Regions from separate parts of the Homo sapiens genome. Here region 1 is linked to region 2. Evidence: fine-mapped expression QTL. A gene starts in region 2. The other region holds a variant in brackets. All regions are shown on one strand. Distances are between the middles of the regions.

Region 1 (10,600 bases), 36 kb before region 2:
TACTATAACTTTACAATAAGTCCTGATATCTGGTAATAGGTCCTGCGGATTTGTTCTTTATCCTCAAAGTTATCTTGGCTATTCTTGATCCTTTGCATTTTTTTTTTCTTTTCCGAGACAGAGTCTCGCTCTGTCACCCAGGCTGGAGTGCAGTGGTGTGATCTCGGCTCACTGCAACCTCCACCTCCCGGGTTCAAGCAATTCTCCTGCCTCAGCCTCCTGAGTAGCTGGGATTAGGGGCATGCACCACCATGTCTGGCTAATTTTTGTGTTTTCAGTAGAGTCGGGGATTCACCATCTTGGCCAGGCTGGTCTGGAACTCCTGACCTCAGGTGATCCTCCCACCTCTGCCTTCCAAAGTGCTGGGCTTACAGGAGTGAGCCACTGAGCCTGGCTGGTCCTTTGCATTTTTATATAAATTGTGGAATCACTTTGTCAGCTTCCAAGAAAAACTTGCTGGATTTTGATTGGCGTTACACTAAATATATAGATCAACTGGAGGAGAATGAACATCTTTACAATATTGAATCTTGAGTTCATGTCTTGATATTTCTCTCCATTTATTTTGGTCTTGCCAATATTTCAGTGTCTTTTACTGGCAGGTCCTGATGCCTGTCTGATCAGTGTCCGTATGTTCATTCCATTTTTATCCTCCCTGTTATTGGGGACAATCAGGAGGATATAAAACTGTAGGCTTATAACTCATACCCGTTAGAATGGCTACCATCAAAAAACAAAACAGAGGCCAGGTGCGGTGGCTCACACCTGTAATCCCAGCACTTTGAGAGGCCGAGGTGGGTGGATCACGAGGTCAGGAAATTGAGACCTCCCTGGCTAACATGGTGAAACCCTGTCTCTACTAAAACTACAAAAAATTAGCTGGGCATGGTGGTGGGCACCTGTAGCCTAGCTACTCGGGAGGCTGAGGCAGGAGAATGGCGTGAACCTGGGAGGCGGAGTTGCAGTGAGCCAAGATAGCGCCACTGCACTCCAGCCTGGGCAACAGAGCGAGATTCCATCTCAAAAAACAAACAACAAACCAGAGGCCAGGCATGGTGGCTCACACCTGTAATCCTGGCACTTTGAGAGGCCAATGTGGGCAGATCATTTGAGCCCAGGAACTTGAGCCTGGGAAACAGAAGGCTCTACATCTCTACAAATAATAAAAAATTAGTCAGGTGTGGTGGCATGTGCCTGTGGTCCCAGCGACTCAGAGGGCTGAGGTGGGAGGATTGCTTGAGCCCAGGAGGTCGAGGCTGCAGTGACCCGTGATCACGCCACTGCCCTCCAGCCCAAGAAACAGAGCAAGATCGTGTCTCCAAAAAAAAAAAGTATTGGCTGGGCGCGGTGGCTCACGCCTATAATCCCAGCACTTTGGGAGGCCAAAGCAGGCGGATCACTAGAGGTCAGGAGTTCAAGACCAGCCTGGCCAACATGGTGAGACCCCGTCTCTACTAAAGGTACAAAAATCAGCCAGGCGTCGTGGCGGACGGCTGTAATGCCAACTACTCGGGAGGCTGAGGCAGGGGAATCACTTGAATCTGGGGAGGAGGAGGTTGCAGTGAGCTGAGATTGCACCACTGCACTCCAGCCTGGGCGACAGAGTGGGACTCCATCTCAATAAATAAATAAATAAATAAATAAATAAATAAATAAATAAATAAGTGCTGGTGAGGATGCTGAGGCACTAGAACCCCTGTGCACCGTCGGTTGGAATGCACAATAGTGCAGTCACTATGGAAAACAGTAAGGCAAGTCCTCAAAAAGTTAAAAATAGAATTACCATGTGATCCAGCAGTTCCGCTTCTGGGTATATGCCCAGAAGAATTGAAAGCGGGATCTCAAAAAGATCTTTGCAAGCCCATGTTCACAGCAGTATTATATTTACAATAGCCAAAAGGTGGGCTGGGCGAGGCGGCTCATGCCTATAATCCCAGCACTTTGGGAGGCCGAGGCGGGCCAATCAGCTGAGGTCGGGAGTTCGAGACCAGCCTGACCAACCTGGCGAAACCCCGTCTATACTAAAAATACAAGAAATTAGCGGGGCGTGGTGGCTCATGCCTGTAATCCCAGCTACTTGGGAGGCTGAGGCAGGAGAATCACTTGACTCTGGGAGGTGGGGGTTGCAGTGAGCCTAGATCGACCCGTGGCACTCCAGCCTGGCCAAGAAAAGCGAAACTCCATTTCAATAAATAAATACATAAATAAAATAGGTTGTCATGGGTCAAATGAAATGTATGTGAAAGTAAGTGGCACATAGTAGATGTTCAATAAATGTGAGCTGAGGCCAGGCGCAGTGGCTCATGCCTGTAATCCCAGCACTTTGGGAGGCCAAGGGAGGTGGATCACCTGAGGTCAAGAGGAGTTCGAGACCAGCTTGTACAATATGGTGAAACCCTGTCTCTACTAAAAATACAAAAATTAGCTGGGTGTGGTGGTGGGCACCTGTAATCCCAGCTACTTGGGAGGCTGAGACAGGAGAATCGCTTGAACCCGGGAGGCGGAGGTTGCAGTGAGCAGTGATCGCGCCACTGCACTGCAGCCTGGGCAACAGAGTGAGAATCTGTCTCAAAAAAAAAAAAAAAAAAAAAAGAGAAAGAGCTGAATGTGAGCAAAATGGAGCTTCTGAGAGTAGAACAGCGTAGCTCGTGGTTTTCCCCCAGAAAATTAGCACTGAGGATAAGATTGACATTTTTGGTGAAAATAAAAATACAGTACTTACTGTGGATTTAATTCATCTGTGCCTAGCCTGTCTGAACTTTATTTTTTATTCTTTTAATGTTTTTATGTATTTTTTGAGACAGGGTCTTGCTCTGTCACCCAGGCTGGAGTGCAGTGGCGCAATCACGGCTCACTGCAGCCTCCAACTCCTGGACTCAAATGAATCTCCCTCCTCAGACTCCTAAGTAGCTGGGACTACGGTATGCACCACTATGCTTGGCTCATATTTTTTTGCATTTTTTTGTAGAGAAGGGATCTCCCTGGGTTCCCCAGGCTGGTCTCAAACTCTGAGGCTCAAGTGATCCTCCTGCCTCGGCCTCCCAAAGTTCTGGGATTACAGGTGTGAGCCACTGTGCCTGGCCCAGTTTATCTGAAGTGATGGAGAGATTGGTGAACTATTACTACATTTTTCTTTTTTCTTTCTTTCTTTCTTTTTTTTTTAATGGAGTTTCACTCTTTTTGCCCAGGCTGGAGTGCAGTGGGGCGATCTCGGCTCATTGCAACCTCCGCCTCCCGGGTTCCAGCGATTTTCCTGCCTCAGCCTCCTGAGTAACTGGAATTACAGGTGCCCACCACCATGCCTGGCTAATTTTATATTTTTAGTAGAGACAGGGTTTCACTATGTTGGCCAGGGTGGTCTCGAACTCCTGACCTCATGATCCACCCTTTTTGGCCTCCCAAAGTGTTGGGATTACAGGCATGAGCCACCAAGCCCGGCTTCCTATGTGTTTTCATAGGGTCTTTAAACTCCTGACTTTGAACTCCCAGGAGACCTGTGACTCACCTAATTAATCAGCTAGCCAAAGCTTTTTGTTAGATTCAATCTTGTGAAATCCATTTTCTTATCAGCACAAACTAGGGCTTTTGATAAAACAATATCCAAATGAAAAGGACTTTTAGGCCTCCCAAGATGTGCTTCACAGCCTCTTTTTAATTGAAAGCCTTTTACAAATGTAACCCATATTTCTGATTTGATCTTTTTCTAAAAGATGAAGCTTTTATTATTATATCTGGTTCCCATTCTAATTCCACTCTTACCAGCTGCAAGCTCCTGAGCAGGTTCTCGCTTCTGCACAAACCAACCCCAGGGGCCGGGCGCGGCGGCTCACGCCTGTAATCCCAGCACTTTGGGAGGCCGAGGAGGGTGGATCACTTGAGGCCAGGAGTTCGAGACCAGCCTGGCCAACATGGTGAAACCCCATCTCTACTAAAAATATAAACATTAGCCGGGCCCAGTGGTGAGTGCCTGTAATTCCAGCTACTTGGGAGGCTAAGGCAGGAGAATCACTTGAACCCGGGAGGTGGAGGTTGCAGTGAGCCAGGATCGCGCCACTGCGCTCCAGCCTGGGTGACAGAGCCAGACTCCGTCTCAAAAAAAAAAAAAAAACCCACTTAGAGAAATTGTTGTTTTCTTCTTCAGGCTTTTCGCATTTTCCAAGTTTGCTGCAATGACGTTGTATTAATTTTGCAATTGGAATGAAATTAAGAAAGGAAAAAACCCACTCCACACCCCTGGGCAAAGTCACCCAGGAGGGAGAAGGTTCACAGCCAGGCAGTGGGAATGTGGAGGCTGTGGGCTGGTGAGAGGTTTTCCCTGCCATTTCCCCCCCTTTCTGTCCTGTCGCTATTATGTTGCTCTTATAATTAAACCCGCTGTGCAGGGAGC[C/T]GCTGATCTTGGTCGCCTGGGGTGTGTGTTTACCTCCTGCCTGTTTAAGCAGCCCATGAGTGGCTCCCACGGGCCATGATGAAAACATGAGTTCCTCCAGCTCGGTTCCCCTGGGAGGGCAGCCGGGCCCTGCCTGGAACCTCGTGTTCCCCTCTCCAGGGAGCGTCTGTAGACCCTGGAATGTCTGCACGGGCTAACAACCAGAGGGAGCCAAGCCTGGGACCTCTGTACCCTGAGACCTCAGTGCCCTGGGACTTCCCAAAGACCCAACAGGTGGATGAGTTCTGGGAAGACTGTGGGGTCTGGTTTTAAGGGTGAGAGCAAATCACACTGGCCCGTTCTTAGATCCGGGTTCAATCCCATTACCTGGATTTTCCAGCATCCGTGGTGCCTGTTCACTGGATATCCTGTACAGCCACGGGCCCCCTGAGTGGCTTAGGAGGTCGGAAAGGGCCTCTGACCTCAGCAGGGAACCAGGAGGTAGACGCATCCATTTTCCCCACTGGCCAGGCTGGAGCTGGCAGCCCTGCCTCCAACTGGGGCAATGGGAGGGCAGGCTGATAGCAAAGGAGACGCTGGAGGCAAGAGCCCGACCAAAGCATCCAGCTCCAGGGCGAGGGCCAAGAGCAAGAACCAGATCCAAAGCAAAGGTCAGGAAGACGGGAGCCTGGGGAGGGCAGCGGGGGAGAGGCTTTTCTGGAGAGCTCTGTCCTGGAGGGAGAGGAAGCTTTTTTTTTTTGAGATGGAGTCTCACTCTGTCACCAGGCTGGAGTGCAATGGCGCGATCTCGGCTCACTGCAACCTCCACCTCCCGGGTTCAAGCGATCCCCCTGTCTCAGCCTCCCGAATAGCTGGGACTACAGGCGTGTGCCACCACACCCAGCTAATATTTATATTTTTAGTAGAGACGGGGTTTCACCATGTTGGCCAGGATGGTCTTGATTTCTTGACCTCATGATCCGCCCGCCTCGGCCTCTCAAAGTGCTGGGATTACAGGCGTGAGCCACCGTGCCCGGCCGGGGAGAGGGAGCTTCTCAGGGCTTCCAGCCCCTCCAGCAGCTCAGGCCGCCTGGTGTTTTGGTGTCATTTCAGTCAGGTGAGGCTGATGCATCTTAAGGAGGCAGGTTTGTGGGAGATAGAAGGGATCTGCTACTTAAAAGCCCCTCGAAGTCCAGCTACCATGCAAAGGCCACTTACTAGAGCCCTTTTATTATAAAGCGACTATAGCTGTATGTCACAAATTTCTTTTTAAAAGCCCGGAAGAAAAATGTTCAGCTCTTCACATTGATTGCTTCAGCTAATGGATTACAGGGAATCATCTGTTCTCCCTCAGACATTCCTATTTTTTCAATTAAATTATAAATGATAAAGGTAATACATCTATAAATGCTTGGTGTAAGGTTCCAACGAAACAAGGTATATGGGATAAAAACTGGAGACTGCCTTTCTCACCTCCAGTCCCATAGCGACTCCCCCAGCCATGAGCGACGGCTGGTATCAGTTTGGTGCAGAGAACTTAGATGGGGTTTCTGTTTTGTTTTAAATAAGTTTAAAGAGTGAATCTCTTCACGCCTGTATCCAGCACTTTGGGAGGCTGAGGCTGGTGGATCACGACATCAGGAGATCAGACCATCCTGGCTAACACAGTGAAACCCCGTCTCTACTAAAAATACAAAAAATTAGCCGAGCATAGTGGTGGGTGCCTGTAGTCCCAGCTATTCGGGAGGCTGAGGCAGGAGAATGGCATGAACCCGGGAGGCGGAGTTTGCAGTGAGCCAAGATCGTGCCACTGCACTCCAGCCTGGGTGACAGAGCGAGACTCCATCTCAAAAAAAAAAAAAAAAAAAAAAGAGTGAATCTCACATGGGCTGGGGAGCACAGAAAATTCTTGCGGAGGATGGTTGCCCGAGAGAGTCAGGGCAAGCATAATGTTTTGTTTTAAATAAGTTTAAAGAGTGAACCTCGGCCGGGCACGGTAGCTCATGCCTGTAATCCCAGCACTTTGGGAGGCCGAGGTGGGCAGACCATGAGGTCAGGAGTTCGAGACCATCCTGGCCAACATGGTGAAACCCCGTCTCTACTAAAAATACAAAAATTAGCCGGGCGTGGTGGAAGATGCCTGTTATCCCAGCTACTCAGGAGGCTGAGGCAGGAGAATTGCTTGAACCCGGGAGGCGGAGGTTGCAATGAGCCAAGATCGCACCACTGCACCCCAGCGTAGGCAACAGAGCTAGACTCCATCTTGGAGGAAGGAAAAAAAAAACAAAGTGAATCTGACATGGGCCAGGGAGCACAGAAAGTTCTTGCGGATGATGGTTGCCCTAGAGAGTCAGGGCAAGCGTTGCAACATCAGACAGGGGCCTCTGGGACCTGGTCCTTGCACCATAGTCTTGCTCCTGCATTCCTGGAAATGTCCCAAGAAGACCAGGCTCTCCTCTCACCCAGAAACACCTTCCCCTGACAGTCAACTGTGTACAAGGGCACCCTCTTGCCACTTCCTTGAGGAACATAAAATTCAAACCAAATTGAGAAATTTGTGGAAGAAAAGCCTCTATCCAGTGAAAAACAAGTGGGGAAACTTTGAAAACACCAGCACATACGAAGGCAGGAACGAGGGCTCATCTGCTTCTGGCGACCCAGCCTCCAATCTGCCCTTTGCACTAGGGAACATTCCCACTGCGGAGGTGAGAGCATTCCCACTGGGGAGATGAGAACATTCCCACTGGGGAGGTGAGAGCATTCCCACTGGGGAGGTGAACATTCCCACTGGGGAGGTGAGAACATTCCCACTGGGGAGGTGAGAGCATTCCCACTGGGGAGGGGAACATTCCCACTGGGGAGGGAGCATTCCCACTAGGGAGGTGAACATTCCCACTGGGGAGGTGAGAACATTCCCACTGGGGAGGTGAGAACATTCCCACTGGGGAGGTGAACATTCCCACTGGGGAGGTGAGAACATTCCCACTGGGGAGGTGAGAACATTCCCACTGGGGAGGTGAGAGCATTCCCACTGGGGAGGGGAACATTCCCACTGGGGAGGTGAGAGCATTCCCACTGGGGAGGGGAACATTCCCACTGGGGAGGTGAGAGCATTCCCACTGGAGAGGTGAGAGCATTCCCACTGGAGAGGTGAGAGCATTCCCACTGGGGAGGGAGCATTCCCACTAGGGAGGTGAACATTCCCACTGGGGAGGTGAGAGCATTCCCACTGGGGAGGGGAGAGCATTCCCACTGGCGAGGTGAGAGCATTCCCACTGGGGAGGTGAGAGCATTCCCACTGGGGAGGTGAGAGCATTCCTACTGGGGCAGAGAGCAGATTGGAGGCTGGGACTTCCCAAAGCCCCCAACAGATGGATGAGTTCTGGGAAGACTGTGGGGGTCTGGTTTTACAGGTGAGAGCAAATCACACTTGCTTATTATTAGATCCAGGTTCAATCCCATTACCCAGATTTTCCAGCATCCGTGGTGCCTCTTCACCGGATATCTCGCTACAGCCACCGGTCCTCCAAATGGCTTACCACGAAGGAAAGGGGCTCTGTCTGAGGCTTCTGGCTGAGACCTGTGTTCATCTGGCACTTTCCAAAGGCAGTTTAGCCCCCCATTCCCAGGGGGTCCCCCAGCCATCTGGTCTGGTCAGCCCCAGTGTCCCAGGCTCCCAGCCACCTGGCCCTGGGGCTTCCACGTCTAGCCCCATCCCAGGAGCACCCTCCCTCTTCCAGGCCTGTGTGGTTGCCATGGCGACCCAGTCAGCTGACCCAGTGAGGAGGCAAAGCCCAGGCTGCCTTCTTCTCCCTGGCTCAGGAGTGGGTGGACCCAGTGGGGCCTCCACAGCAAGGGCTGCTTTTGAAGCACCTTCAGAATTCACTCCCCCAGTGCCTAAACCCTGTGTTTAAATTATAGGTAGGGAGCGGGCACAGTGGCTCACGCCTGTAATCCCAGCACTTTGGGAGGCCGAGGCGGGCGGACCATCTGAGGTCAGGAGTTCAAGACCAGCCTGGACAACGTGGTGAAACCCCGTCTCTACTAAAAATACAAAAATTAGCCGGGCGTGGTGGTGCATGCCTGTAGTCCCACCTACTTGGGAGGCTGAGGCAGGAGAATCGCTCGAACCCGGGAGGCGGAGGCTATGGTGAGCCAAGATCTCGCCATTGCACTCCAGCCTGGGCAAGGGTGAAACTCTATCTCAAAACAACAACATCAAAAATTATAGGCAGGAAAAAAATGGGAGAGAGAGAAACTGGACACCTTAATGCCTCACAATGGGAGAAAGGATAAGTAAATAAATAAGTTATCATGTATATGCATTATCCAGCCGTCTTAAAAGGATGTTTACAGATAATTTTTTGTATACAGAGTTTTTAATAACGGAAATACTTGGGTTTGCAAATCTAAAACTTAGCTTTACAAGAAAATATTTCTCAAAGAAGGGGCTTGGCAACCCATCGAATTTAGGAAATACTGCATAATCCACCCTTTCTTGGAGGTACATGGTGCACGTGGGTGTATGAAGGTCTCTGAGAAATCTTACTGTCATGCTCCGTTTAGCTCGACGTAATTCACGGTTTTCCTGACTGTCTGATGACAGCGTGTAGCTCGATGTCATTCCGTTTTCCTGATCTGTCTGATGACAGCGTGTAGCTCGATGTCATTCCGTTTTCCTGATCTGTCTGATGACAGCGTGTAGCTCGATGTCATTCCGTTTTCCTGATCTGTCTGATGACAGCGTGTAGCTCGATGTCATTCCGTTTTCCTGATCTGTCTGATGACAGCGTGTAGCTCGATGTCATTCCGTTTTCCTGATCTGTCTGATGACAGCGTGTAGCTCGATGTCATTCCGTTTTCCTGATCTGTCTGATGACAGCGTGTAGCTCGATGTCATTCCGTTTTCCTGATCTGTCTGATGACAGCGTGTAGCTCGATGTCATTCCGTTTTCCTGATCTGTCTGATGACAGCGTGTAGCTCGATGTCATTCCGTTTTCCTGATCTGTCTGATGACAGCGTGTAGCTCGATGTCATTCCGTTTTCCTGATCTGTCTGATGACAGCGTGTAGCTCGATGTCATTCCGTTTTCCTGATCTGTCTGATGACAGCGTGTAGCTCGATGTCATTCCGTTTTCCTGATCTGTCTGATGACAGCGTGTAGCTCGATGTCATTCCGTTTTCCTGATCTGTCTGATGACAGCGTGTAGCTCGATGTCATTCCGTTTCCCTGATCTGTCTGATGACAGCGTGTAGCTCGATGTCATTCCGTTTTCCTGATCTGTCTGATGACAGCGTGTAGCTCGATGTCATTCCGTTTTCCTGATCTGTCTGATGACAGCGTGTAGCTCGATGTCATTCCGTTTTCCTGATCTGTCTGATGACAGCGTGTAGCTCGATGTCATTCCGTTTCCCTGATCTGTCTGATGACAGCGTGTAGCTCGATGTCATTCCGTTTTCCTGATCTGTCTGATGACAGCGTGTAGCTCGATGTCATTCCGTTTTCCTGATCTGTCTGATGACAGCGTGTAGCTCGATGTCATTCCGTTTTCCTGATCTGTCTGATGACAGCGTGTAGCTCGATGTCATTCCGTTTTCCTGATCTGTCTGATGACAGCGTGTAGCTCGATGTCATTCCGTTTTCCTGATCTGTCTGATGACAGCGTGTAGCTCGATGTCATTCCGTTTTCCTGATCTGTCTGATGACAGCGTGTAGCTCGATGTCATTCCGTTTCCCTGATCTGTCTGATGACAGCGTGTAGCTCGATGTCATTCCGTTTTCCTGATCTGTCTGATGACAGCGTGTAGCTCGATGTCATTCCGTTTTCCTGATCTGTCTGATGACAGCGTGTAGCTCGATGTCATTCCGTTTCCCTGATCTGTCTGATGACAGCGTGTAGCTCGATGTCATTCCGTTTTCCTGATCTGTCTGATGACAGCGTGTAGCTCGATGTCATTCCGTTTTCCTGATCTGTCTGATGACAGCGTGTAGCTCGATGTCATTCCGTTTTCCTGATCTGTCTGATGACAGCGTGTAGCTCGATGTCATTCCGTTTTCCTGATCTGTCTGATGACAGCGTGTAGCTCGATGTCATTCCGTTTCCCTGATCTGTCTGATGACAGCGTGTAGCTCGATGTCATTCCGTTTTCCTGATCTGTCTGATGACAGCGTGTAGCTCGATGTCATTCCGTTTCCCTGATCTGTCTGATGACAGCGTGTAGCTCGATGTCAT
Region 2 (10,127 bases):
CTACGAGGGTCCCCTCTGCTGAACGCCAGCCTCATCCCCTCCAACCCCTCCTCTCACCCTGCCCCAGACTGATCCAGCAAAATGGAGATCCAACCACACTCCTCTCGGCTGCAAAGCCTACAGCGTGCTGCTACGGCACTGCGGCAGGGATGACGCTTGAAGACGACATGCAAAGTGAACGAGGCCAGGAACACAGGCCTCATACTGTATGATTCCATTTATCATTTCATGTCCAGAATAGGCAGATCTAGAGAAACAGAAAGGAGATGAGTGGTTGCTCAGGGCTGGGAGGGGCAGGGATGGAGAGTGACAGCTGAAGGGGACAGGGTTTCTTTCTTTCTTTTCTTTCTTTCTTTCTTTCTTTTTTTTTTTGAGACAGAATCTTGCTCTGTCGCCCAGGCTGGAGTGCAGTGGCACCATCTCAGCTCACTGTAAGCTCCGCCTCCCGGATTCACGCCATTCTCCTGCCTCAGCCTCCTGAGTAGCTGGGACTACAGGCGCCCACTGCCACCATGCCCGGCTAATTTTTTGCATTTTTAGTAGAGATGGGGATTCACCGTGTTAGCCAGGATGGTGTCAATCTCCTGACCTCGTGATCTGCCCGCCTCGGCCTCCCAAAGTGCTGGGATTACAGGCATGACCACCACTCCCGGCCCTTTATTTTATTTTATTTTTTTTGAGATAGAATCTCACTCTGTTACTCAGGCTGGAGTATAGTGGCTGGATCTCGGCTCACTGCAACCTCTGCCTCCAGGGTTCAAGTGATTCTCCTGCCTCAGCCTCCCGAGTAGCTGGGATTGCAGGCACATGACACCACACCTGGCTAATTTTTTTGTATTTTTAGTAGAGATGGGGTTGCACCATGTTGGCCAGGCTGGTCTCGAACTCCTGATCTCAGGAGATCCACCCGCCTCGGCCTCCCAAAGTGCTGGGATTACAGGCATGAGCCACTGCGCCCGGCCAGGGTACAGGGTTTCTTTTGGAGATGAGGCAAATGTTCCAAATTGACTGCGGTTGTTGCACCTGTCTGTGAATACACTTTAGATGGGTGCATCATATGGTATGTGAGTTATATCTCAACAAAGCCATTTCTAAAACACCAGGATGGCTTCCTGCCTCCCCCGGGAGGCTCCCCGCTGCCACTTACGTACCCATTATCCTGTAAGAGCCCCACACCCTCCTGGTGTTGTTCTGAAGCACTGGGTGTGGCCCGTCTCATTTCACCCCCTCACGGCTCTCTCGTGCAGGCATTGAGGTTATACCCATTTTGCAGATGGGAATGCCAGGGAGAAGAGCCGTTTGAATGACTTTCCCAGCTCATTATCTTAACTTTATGTCTACCACGGGCACTTCTGGAAATATGTCATAAGAATCTGTTTAAGAGTTCCTTCCTGCCGGACTGGAGGTTCTGGGGAATTGGCAACAGTGTCTGGTTAGCAATGTATTCCCTGTGCCCAGCCTGGTATTCATCACACCTGACTCAAAAACGTAAAAGGGGCCGAGTGTGGTGGGCACTTGCCTGTAATCCCAGCACTTTGGGCGGCCGAGGTGGGAGGATCACCTGAGATCAGGAGTTTGAGACCAGCCTGACCAACATGGAGAAACCCCGTCTCTACTAAAAATACAAAAATTAGCCAGGCATGGTGGCCAGCGCCTGTAATGCCAGCTACTTGGGAGGCTGAGGCAGGAGAATTGCATGAACCTGGGAGACGGAGTTTGCAGTGAGCCAAGATCGCACCATTGCACTCCAGCCTGGGCGACAGAGCGAGGCTCCGTTTCAAATAAAACAAAACAAAACCTTTAAAGAATATAGAAACAGGCCAGGTTCAGTGGCTCACACCTGTAATCCCAGCCCTTTCGGAGGCCGAGGTGGGTGGATCACGAGGTCGGGAGTTCAAGACCAGCCTGGCCAACATGGTAAAACCCCGTCTCTACTAAAAATACAAAAATTAGCCAGGTGTGGTGGTGGGCTCCTGTAATCCCAGCTACTCAGGAGGCTGAGGCAAGAGAACTGCTTGAACCTGGGAGGCAGAGGTTGCAGTGAGCCGAGATCGCACCATTGCACTCCAGCCTGGGTGACAGAGCAAGACTCTGTCTTAAAATATATATACATATACGTACATATATACATATATACGCATATGTACATATACGTACATATATGTACATATATACGCATATGTACATATACGTACATATATGTACATATACGTGCATATATGTACATATACGTACATATACGTGCATATACGTACATATACGCACGTGTATACGTACATATACGCACGTGTACACGTACATATACGCACGTGTATACGTACATATATGCACGTGTATACGTACATATATGCGTGTATATGTACATATGTGCATTTATGTGTACACATATACGTATATATGTACATATATGTATATATGTGTATACATGTACATATGTGTACATATGTGTGTATATATGTACATATGTATATGTACATATGTGTATATCTGTATATATGTACATATATGTACACGTGTGCATATATGTACATGTATGTGCATATATGTACATGTATGTATATGTATATATAGAAACTCACTGGGGCAGGTTCTGTGGTCTCATTGCCTTGGGCTTAGGCTCTGTTTGTCAGAGGCAGGTCCTGCCCAGCCTGCACCCTGCCACCCCACCAGGAGATGGATTCCAGCAGCTGTTTTCTCCTGAGCCCTTGGGTAGCTTCCCTCCCCAAATCCAGTTTCCCCTCCTGGGGCCTTTCCCTGTAACCAAGAGGCAGGCCCTGCCCACAGCCACTGGCTGCACCCCTGGGTCCTGGCTTTACCTGCAAGCGGTCCCCAGGTACAGCAGGCATCACAGAGAGCTGCCCGGAAGGCCCCTGCCCGGCCCTGCTTCCACAGCCCATGCCAAGTCCCTCAGACTCAGGAAGGCTGCCAGTGCCCCCTGATGTCCTGAAAGGTAGTACTGGCTTTGGTGGGATGGGGAAGGCTTCCCTGCTGGGAGACTGGGCCTCCCTGAGGTAGACAGAGTGGTTTGAAGAAATAGGAGCTTTCTCAGAGGACAGCTCCTGGGGGTTCGGTGATGGTGACTCTGCAGGGAGTCACTCTTGGGAACCCCCCTCCACACCTAGTCCTCTGGCCCTGACCAGCCTGGGCCAGCAGTTTTCTACCCCCTGCCCCTGACCTCACTCTGAAATCATTGCTGAGCCCTGCTTCTCCCTCTCCCCACCCTTTCATAACTCTCGCTTCTTCCTGGACTTCAAAAGTCACTTGCCAATATCTGCTGACATTTTCTATGGAATCCTTTATAAGTAGCTCTACCCAAAGGGCTTGGGTTGGAGACAATCTAAGACAATTCATTCAAAATCCCATGGAAGTACAGACCCGGCCCCATGCCCCTTCCTGGGCATGGCAGGCCATGCCCTCTGACTCTCACATTTTTCACTTGTGACCCAGACCTCCCCTGCCCTGAAGACGAGGCTGAAGTCAGCGTAGCTGTGGAGCTGCAGAGGGCTCCGGAGGGAACTCCACGCCTCGGGAGGAGCAGTCTGCCAGCTCTCCCCGCTTTGTGCGCCCCTCGGGGGAGCCTGGCCCCGGAGCCCTCAGGGTACGGCAGGGAAGCCGCTGCGACTCTTGGAAACCGGAGCCGGCAGAGGCTGGGAGCATGTCCAGGTGGCCTGGGAGGACACATGGGCGCTGGGACCCCCGTCCGGTGCAACCTCTGCTGAGACAGCCCCACTTGGCGATGACCCTTTGGGACCGCCCGTCCCTCCTAAAACAGCAAGACCCCCAGCCTGGCTATCTTTCTGCCCCGCGGGATGTATCGCCAGGCAGCTCCCTGAGGGCCCCTCCCCAGCAGACACAGGTGCAAAGTCGAGCTCTGATGCCCAGAAGCAGAGATGAGAGAACAGAGCAGGAGCTCTTCCAGCCCCGGGGCCCCTCTCTAAGAGGAAGGAGGAGGCCAGTGAGGAAAGGAGTCTTCCCCAAGCCCCCCACTCCCAGCTCTCTCTTCTCCACACCCTGGGCAGTGTTTGGTGCCTGCCTGGGGGAAACACCTGCCGACCCCTGGGCCCAGCCCCTGCCCCTGGAACAAAGACCAGCACTTACCATGATGGAAATGATGAGGGGGATGAGGTTGAGGGGCCAGACGGGGCAGAAGCAGGCGACGACGGCCAGGATGAGGTAATCTCTGGGGGCTTCTTGGTCTTGGGCATAGGAGGTGGTGGCGATGGAGGACGCCCTCCTTGAGCTGGCCCGGGAGGGGGACCGAGGCAGTGGGGCCTCCAGGTGCCCCTCGGAGATGGCCTTGAAGGGTAGGCCCTGGCTGTTCTGCTCCAGATCCAGAGGCCCCGAGAGGGTCTTGGACAGATTCAGGGTCTTGTCATCCTTGTTCTCTGCCTTGGTGAGGAGTATCTCCATCTCCGGCAGGTCCAGGAATGCGGCGGAGCCTGGCTCCTGTGCTGAAGGAAACTCGGACTGCACCGGGTGGGCCATGGGGGCCTGGGCCTTGCGCGGCTGCAGCTCCAGGCTGGGACAAGGGGCTCTGGAGGGACCTCAGCGCGCCATTCCCCAGCCCAGACTGAGGGCCTCCAGGTCGGGGGCAGGGGCGTCCCTCAGGAGACGGAGGGCCGGCTGGGTGCTGGAAGGGTTGGGCTGAGCTTCTCAAGCCAGCTGAGTTCAGAGGCTGGGGCCTGCCTGCTGCCCCCGCGGAGCTCCCAGAAAGACGCTGGAGCCTGCAGCTTTGTTCAAGTTTGAGGCCAACTTTGCTGGTGCTGCTGAGAGCACAGATGGGCAGGGAAGCAACGGAAAGCTCAGAGAGCAGAGAGAAGAATGCGCCTCTTCCCAGGGAGGCTCAGGCTCAGTCAGGGAGGCTGTGTGTGTGTGTGTGTGTGTGTGTGTGTGTGTGTGCGTGTGCGCACACGGCCTCCCTCCCTCTCCCCCTCCTTGGTGATGCTTTTCCTTTTCAATTCCCCTCTCCCCAGAGAACCACCCTGGCAGGATTTTGCCTCTGCCCCAGCCCAGCCCAGCCCAGCCCAGCTCTGCCCAGCCCAGCCCAGCCCAGCCCAGAGGGACTTGGGCCAGCCTCCGGTTTCTGTTGCAGCTCCAGGGCCTGCTCCTCTGGGCAGGGTCTCTGGATGGGGAGAAAGACACTTTGGGCCCCACAGGGATGTGTCTTCAGCTGTCCTGGGAACTGAGCCCTCCGCTGCTTCTTCCAAAGCAAGCGTGTACTTCTTTCTTTCTGTTGGGAAATGCTGGACCTTAGGGCCCCCTATTACATCCCACCCAGACCCTGACCCCCAACCGCTGGGAGCATCCAGGCCAAAGCCTGGCTCCCGACTCCAGAAGGGAAGGGGAGATGTGAGCACCAGGGTAGCCCCTGGATCCTGCCTGGACCCTGCATGGACCAGCAGGGCCCCATGAGTAGGTTTCTACGTAGCTCACCACCAGGTGGGGAAGAGGATAAGGGGGAGTGTTGGGTCCACCTCATGCCCATCAGAACGATTCTGGGGTGCTAAAGAGCCGGTGGCAGAGAGCCCCTAGGTCAGCTGCTCCGGGCAGATGCCAGCTCGGAAGGGCCTCAGGCTGTTTGTCCTATCGGATTCTCCTCCTTTGTTCTCTCTTAGGTTTTCTCCCTCTGTCTCTGCCTTCTTCTCTATCCTCGGCATCTCTTTCTATATTCCTGACGCCCCTCCTTACATTGTTTTACAAGTGTGATCTGGAGCCGCCACGGATGTGTGTGTGTGGTTTGAAAGTGGTTGTATGAAATAGTTTAAAATCCTACGATCAGGCGGGATGCCATGGCTCATGCCCATAAACCCAGCACTTCGGGAGGCCGAGGCAGAAGGACTGCTTTAGCCCAGGAGTTTGACACCAGCCTGGGCAACATGGCAAAATCCCATCTCTACAAAAAATACAAAAAATATATGGGCGTGGTGGTACATGCCTGTAATCCCAGCTACTTGGGAGGCTGAGGGAGGAGAATCGCTTGAGCCTGGGAGGTCCAGGCTGCAGTGAGCCGAGATCCTGCCGCACAGCTCAGTGGGAGATATGGGGCTGAAAGGACACCTGGAAATGAATAAGATTTGAAAACTCAGCCGGGCACGGTGACTCATGCCTGTAATCCCAGCACTTTGGGAGGCTGAGGCAGGTGGATCACTTGAGGTCAGCAGTTCGAGACCAGCCTGGCCATCATGGCAAAACCCTGTCTCTACTAAAAATACAAAAATTAGCGTGGTGGTGGGTGCCTGTAACCACAGCTACTTTGGAGACTGAGGCAGGAGAATCACTTGAACCTGGGAAGAAGCGAACGTTGCAGTGAGCCAAGGTTGCACCACTGCACTCCAGCCTGGGTGACAGAATGAGACTCCAACTAAAAACAAACAAACAAACAAACAAATAAAAAACAATGTTTGTGGCTTTGGGAGAACTTTGCAGGTTTCATAAATTTGACTATATTAAATTAAGAATTTTGCTCAGGCTGGGCATGGTGGCTCACGCCTGTAATCCCAGCACTTTGGGAGGCCAAGGTGGGCAGATCACGAGGTCAGGAGATTGAGACCATCCTGACCAATGTGGTGAAACCCCGTCTCTACTAGAAATACAAAAATTAGCTGGGTGTGGTGGCACATGCCTGTAATCCCAGCTACTCAGGAGGCTGAGGCAGGAGAATTGCTTGAACCCGGGAGGCAGAGGTTGCAGTGAGTGGAGATCATGCCACTACACTCCAGCCTGGGTGACAGAGTGAGACTCCTCTCAAAAAAATAAAAGAGAGAGAGAGAGAGAATTGTGCTCAATAAAGGAAACCCATTGTTATTTGCAAAATGAAGACCTTGGGGAGCCGCCTCGTCCTCCTCTCAGTCCTCAGGGAGGCCAGGTGTGGGGCCTGGGAGCGAGCTGGGCTCCCCTGCTTATGAGCGTCCAGAAATACGATAATCCTGTATAACAGGAAAGCTCCTTCACAGGGTGGCTAGGTGGGTCCCTGAGACCCCTTAGGCTCCAAGCCGGTATCCAGTTGGGCAGAATGCCATGGTACAGCCTTGGAGCTGACCCCTGGGTGGAGGGACGACAGCTACCCAGCCCAATTCGGTAGCCCCTAGCCACATGTGGCTTCCGAGCCCTTGAAATGTGACTCATCCAAGTTGAGATGTAAAATACACACAAGACATCGAAAACTGGGTCCAAACACAAAAAGAATGGAAAATATCTCATTAATACTTTTTATTGATTGTATATTGAAAGGATAATATTTTGGATATATTGGGATAAATAAAACGTTATTAAAATCAACATTATTGATTTCATCTGCTTATTTTTACGTTCTAAAAATGTGCCTAGTAGAAAATTAAAAAAATTTTTTTTTGAGACAGAATCTCGCTCTGTCACCAAGCTGGAGTGCAGTGGCGCGATCTCGGCTCACTGCAACCTCCGCCTCCCAGGTTCAAGCGATTCTCCGGCCTCAGCCTCCTGAGTATCTGGGATTACAGGCATGCACCACCACGCCTGGCTAATTTTTGTATTTTTAGTAGAGATGGGGTTTTACCATGTTGGCCAGGCTGGTCCCAAACTCCTGAACTCAGGTGATTCACCCGCCTCTGCCTCCCAAAGTTCTGGGATTACAGGCATGAGCCACCGCGCCCGGCCTCAACACATGATTTTAAAAATTCATTTCATATAAAAATTGGGGTTTCAGGCTGGGCACGGTGGCTCACGAGATAGAGTCTTGCTCTGTTGCCCAGGCTGGAGTGCAGTGTTGTGATCTTGGCTCTAGGCTTGCTGCAACCTCTGCCTCCCGGGTTCAAGCGATTCTCCTACCTCAGCCTCCCGAGTAGCTGGGATTACAGGCATCCACCACCACGTCCGGCTAATTTTTGTATTTTTAGTAGAGACAGGGTTTCGCCATGTTGGCCAGGCTAGTCTTGAACTCCTGACCTCAGGTGATCTGCCCACCTCGGCCTCCCAAAGTGCAGGGATAACAGGCGTGAGCCACCGCACCCGGCTATATGTTAAATTCTTGATGGAATAAAAGGAGGAAAGAAAAAACTAAGAAGTCCCCAGAGTAGTCCCTGGCACGAGGTTGCCTGGGCGGGCTGGGGTCGGGGGTAATTAGGGACCCACGTTTGCTCCGCCCGTGTGGGATGCTGGAGTCTCAGCGCCACCTCGTGGCAGGTAGTGATGAGGGGAATGACCAGAGTGGAGGGAGCCCGAGGGAGGCAGCAGCGGATTTGGGCTCCCGGCGGTGACCCCAACCTTTGAGCACCCTACATGCGAGGGATGCTGAGAGAGGACAGGGATGTGAACAGTGCGGGGGAGTGGACCTGCCCATGAGGGGTCCTTTGGGGGGTGAGGTGGGGCGGGGAAGAAACCTCAGAAGCATAAGCAAGTTCAAGCCGAAGCCCAGGGGAAGGAGAAACATCCTCCTCATATCTCTGCCCCACAGCCCTTTCATCCTTGGCGTCTCACTGGGTGTCAGGAAACCCTACGGGGCTGACAGGGAAGGTGCAATTGAGCCAATTCCTCTTCTCACTGAAGCCTTCCTGGGCCCCGTTCAGGAGTTCTGCTCCAGGAGTGAGAGAGTAGCCTCCTGACATCTGTGTACACACACACACACACACACACTCTCACACACTCTCTCTCACACACACACTCTCACACTCTCATACACTCACCCCACACACTCTCACACACTCACACACTCACACACTCACCCCCACACACATTCACACACCCTCAGTCACCCCCACACACTCACACACACTCACACACTCACCCACACACCCCCCCCACACACACATTCACACACACTCACACACTCACACACTCGCCCCACACACATTCACACACCCTCACACTCAGTCACCCCACACACTCACACACACTCATACACTCACCCCCCACACACTCACACACTCACACACTCACCCCACACACATTCACACACCCTCACAATCACCCCCACACACTCACCCCCACACACATTCACACACCCTCACACACACACTCACACACTCACCCCCACACACATTCACACACCCTCACTCACACACACACAGTCACCCCCACACACATTCACTCACACACACTCGCACACTCATTCACACACACACACGCACGTCCTTTTGTAAAGTGTGATAAACATTGACGTAATCGTGCGCCCATCAGCAAGCACCCCAGAATTTCACATCCAGGGAGGCGGGTCCACCTGAAGGAACCCACTGGGGATGCGTCTCCTTTCTGTCCTTGCTCAAAACACATCCCTACTCCTCTTGGGAGTTTTCCTAAGGAGACTGATCTTGCACTTTTTTTTTTTTGACACCAAATCTCACTCTGTTGCCCAGGCTGGAGTGCAGTGGTGCTATCTCGGCTCACTGCAACCTCCGCCTTCTGGGTTTCAAGTGATTCTCCTGCCTCAGCCTCCTCCCAAGTAGCTGGGATTACAGGCTCCTGCCACCATGCCTGGCTAATTTTTGTTTGTTTAGTGGAGACGGGGTTTCGCCATGTTGGCTGGGCCTAATTTTTCACCTTTTAAAATAACAATGATGAAGACTCTAATGAAAATTAGGCCGGGCGCGGTGGCTCATTTCTGTAATCCCAGCACTTTGGGAGGCTGAGGCGGGCGGATCACGAGGTCGGGAGACCATCCTGGCTAACACAGTGAAACCCCGTCTCTACTAAAAATATGAAAAAAAATGATCCGGGCGTGGTGGCGGGCGCCTGTAGTCCCAGCTACTCGGGAGGCTGAGGCAGGAGAATGGCGTGAACCCGGGAGGCAGAGCTTGCAGTGAGCCAAGATCACGCCACTGCACTCCAGCCTGGGCGACAGAGCGAGACTCCATCTCAAAAAAAAAAAAAAAAAAAAAAAAAAGAAAGAAAAAAAGAAAGAAAATTAAGGCCAGGCCCCTCATACCTGTAATGCCAGCACTTTGGGAGGCTAAGGCAGGAGGATCACTTGAGCCCCAGGTATTTGAGACCAGCCTGGGCAACATGGCAAAACCCCATCTTTACAAAAAATACAAAAATTAGCCGGCATGGTGGCACACGCCTGTATTCTCAGCTACTAGGAAGGCTGAGGTGGGAGGATCACGTGAGCCCAGGAGGTCAAGGCTACAGTGAGCCATGGCTTGGCGGCTCTGTCTTAC

Which allele goes with the higher level. Positions count from the first base shown, and alleles are read on the strand shown. Sizes are in standard deviations (SD) of each study's normalised expression.
With allele C in place of T in region 1, the expression in tibial artery of the gene that starts at base 4,825 in region 2 is higher (moderate effect, 0.43 SD a copy in GTEx).

What was found.
Region 1: its variant is fine-mapped to the expression of TRARG1 in tibial artery (GTEx, PIP above 0.99).

The regions. Positions count from the first base shown.
Region 1 is chr17:1,309,984-1,320,583 of GRCh38, reverse strand. No RefSeq gene overlaps it. Among named protein-coding and RNA genes, the nearest start is that of TRARG1, 36 kb to the right of the region's middle. The variant C/T (reference allele first, on the strand shown) is at 4,388.
Region 2 is chr17:1,274,360-1,284,486 of GRCh38, reverse strand. It overlaps TRARG1 (trafficking regulator of GLUT4 (SLC2A4) 1 (gene/pseudogene)), which reads right to left and starts at 4,825. Exons shown (of 3, transcript NM_172367.3): 1 at 4,099-4,825. The coding sequence starts at 4,485.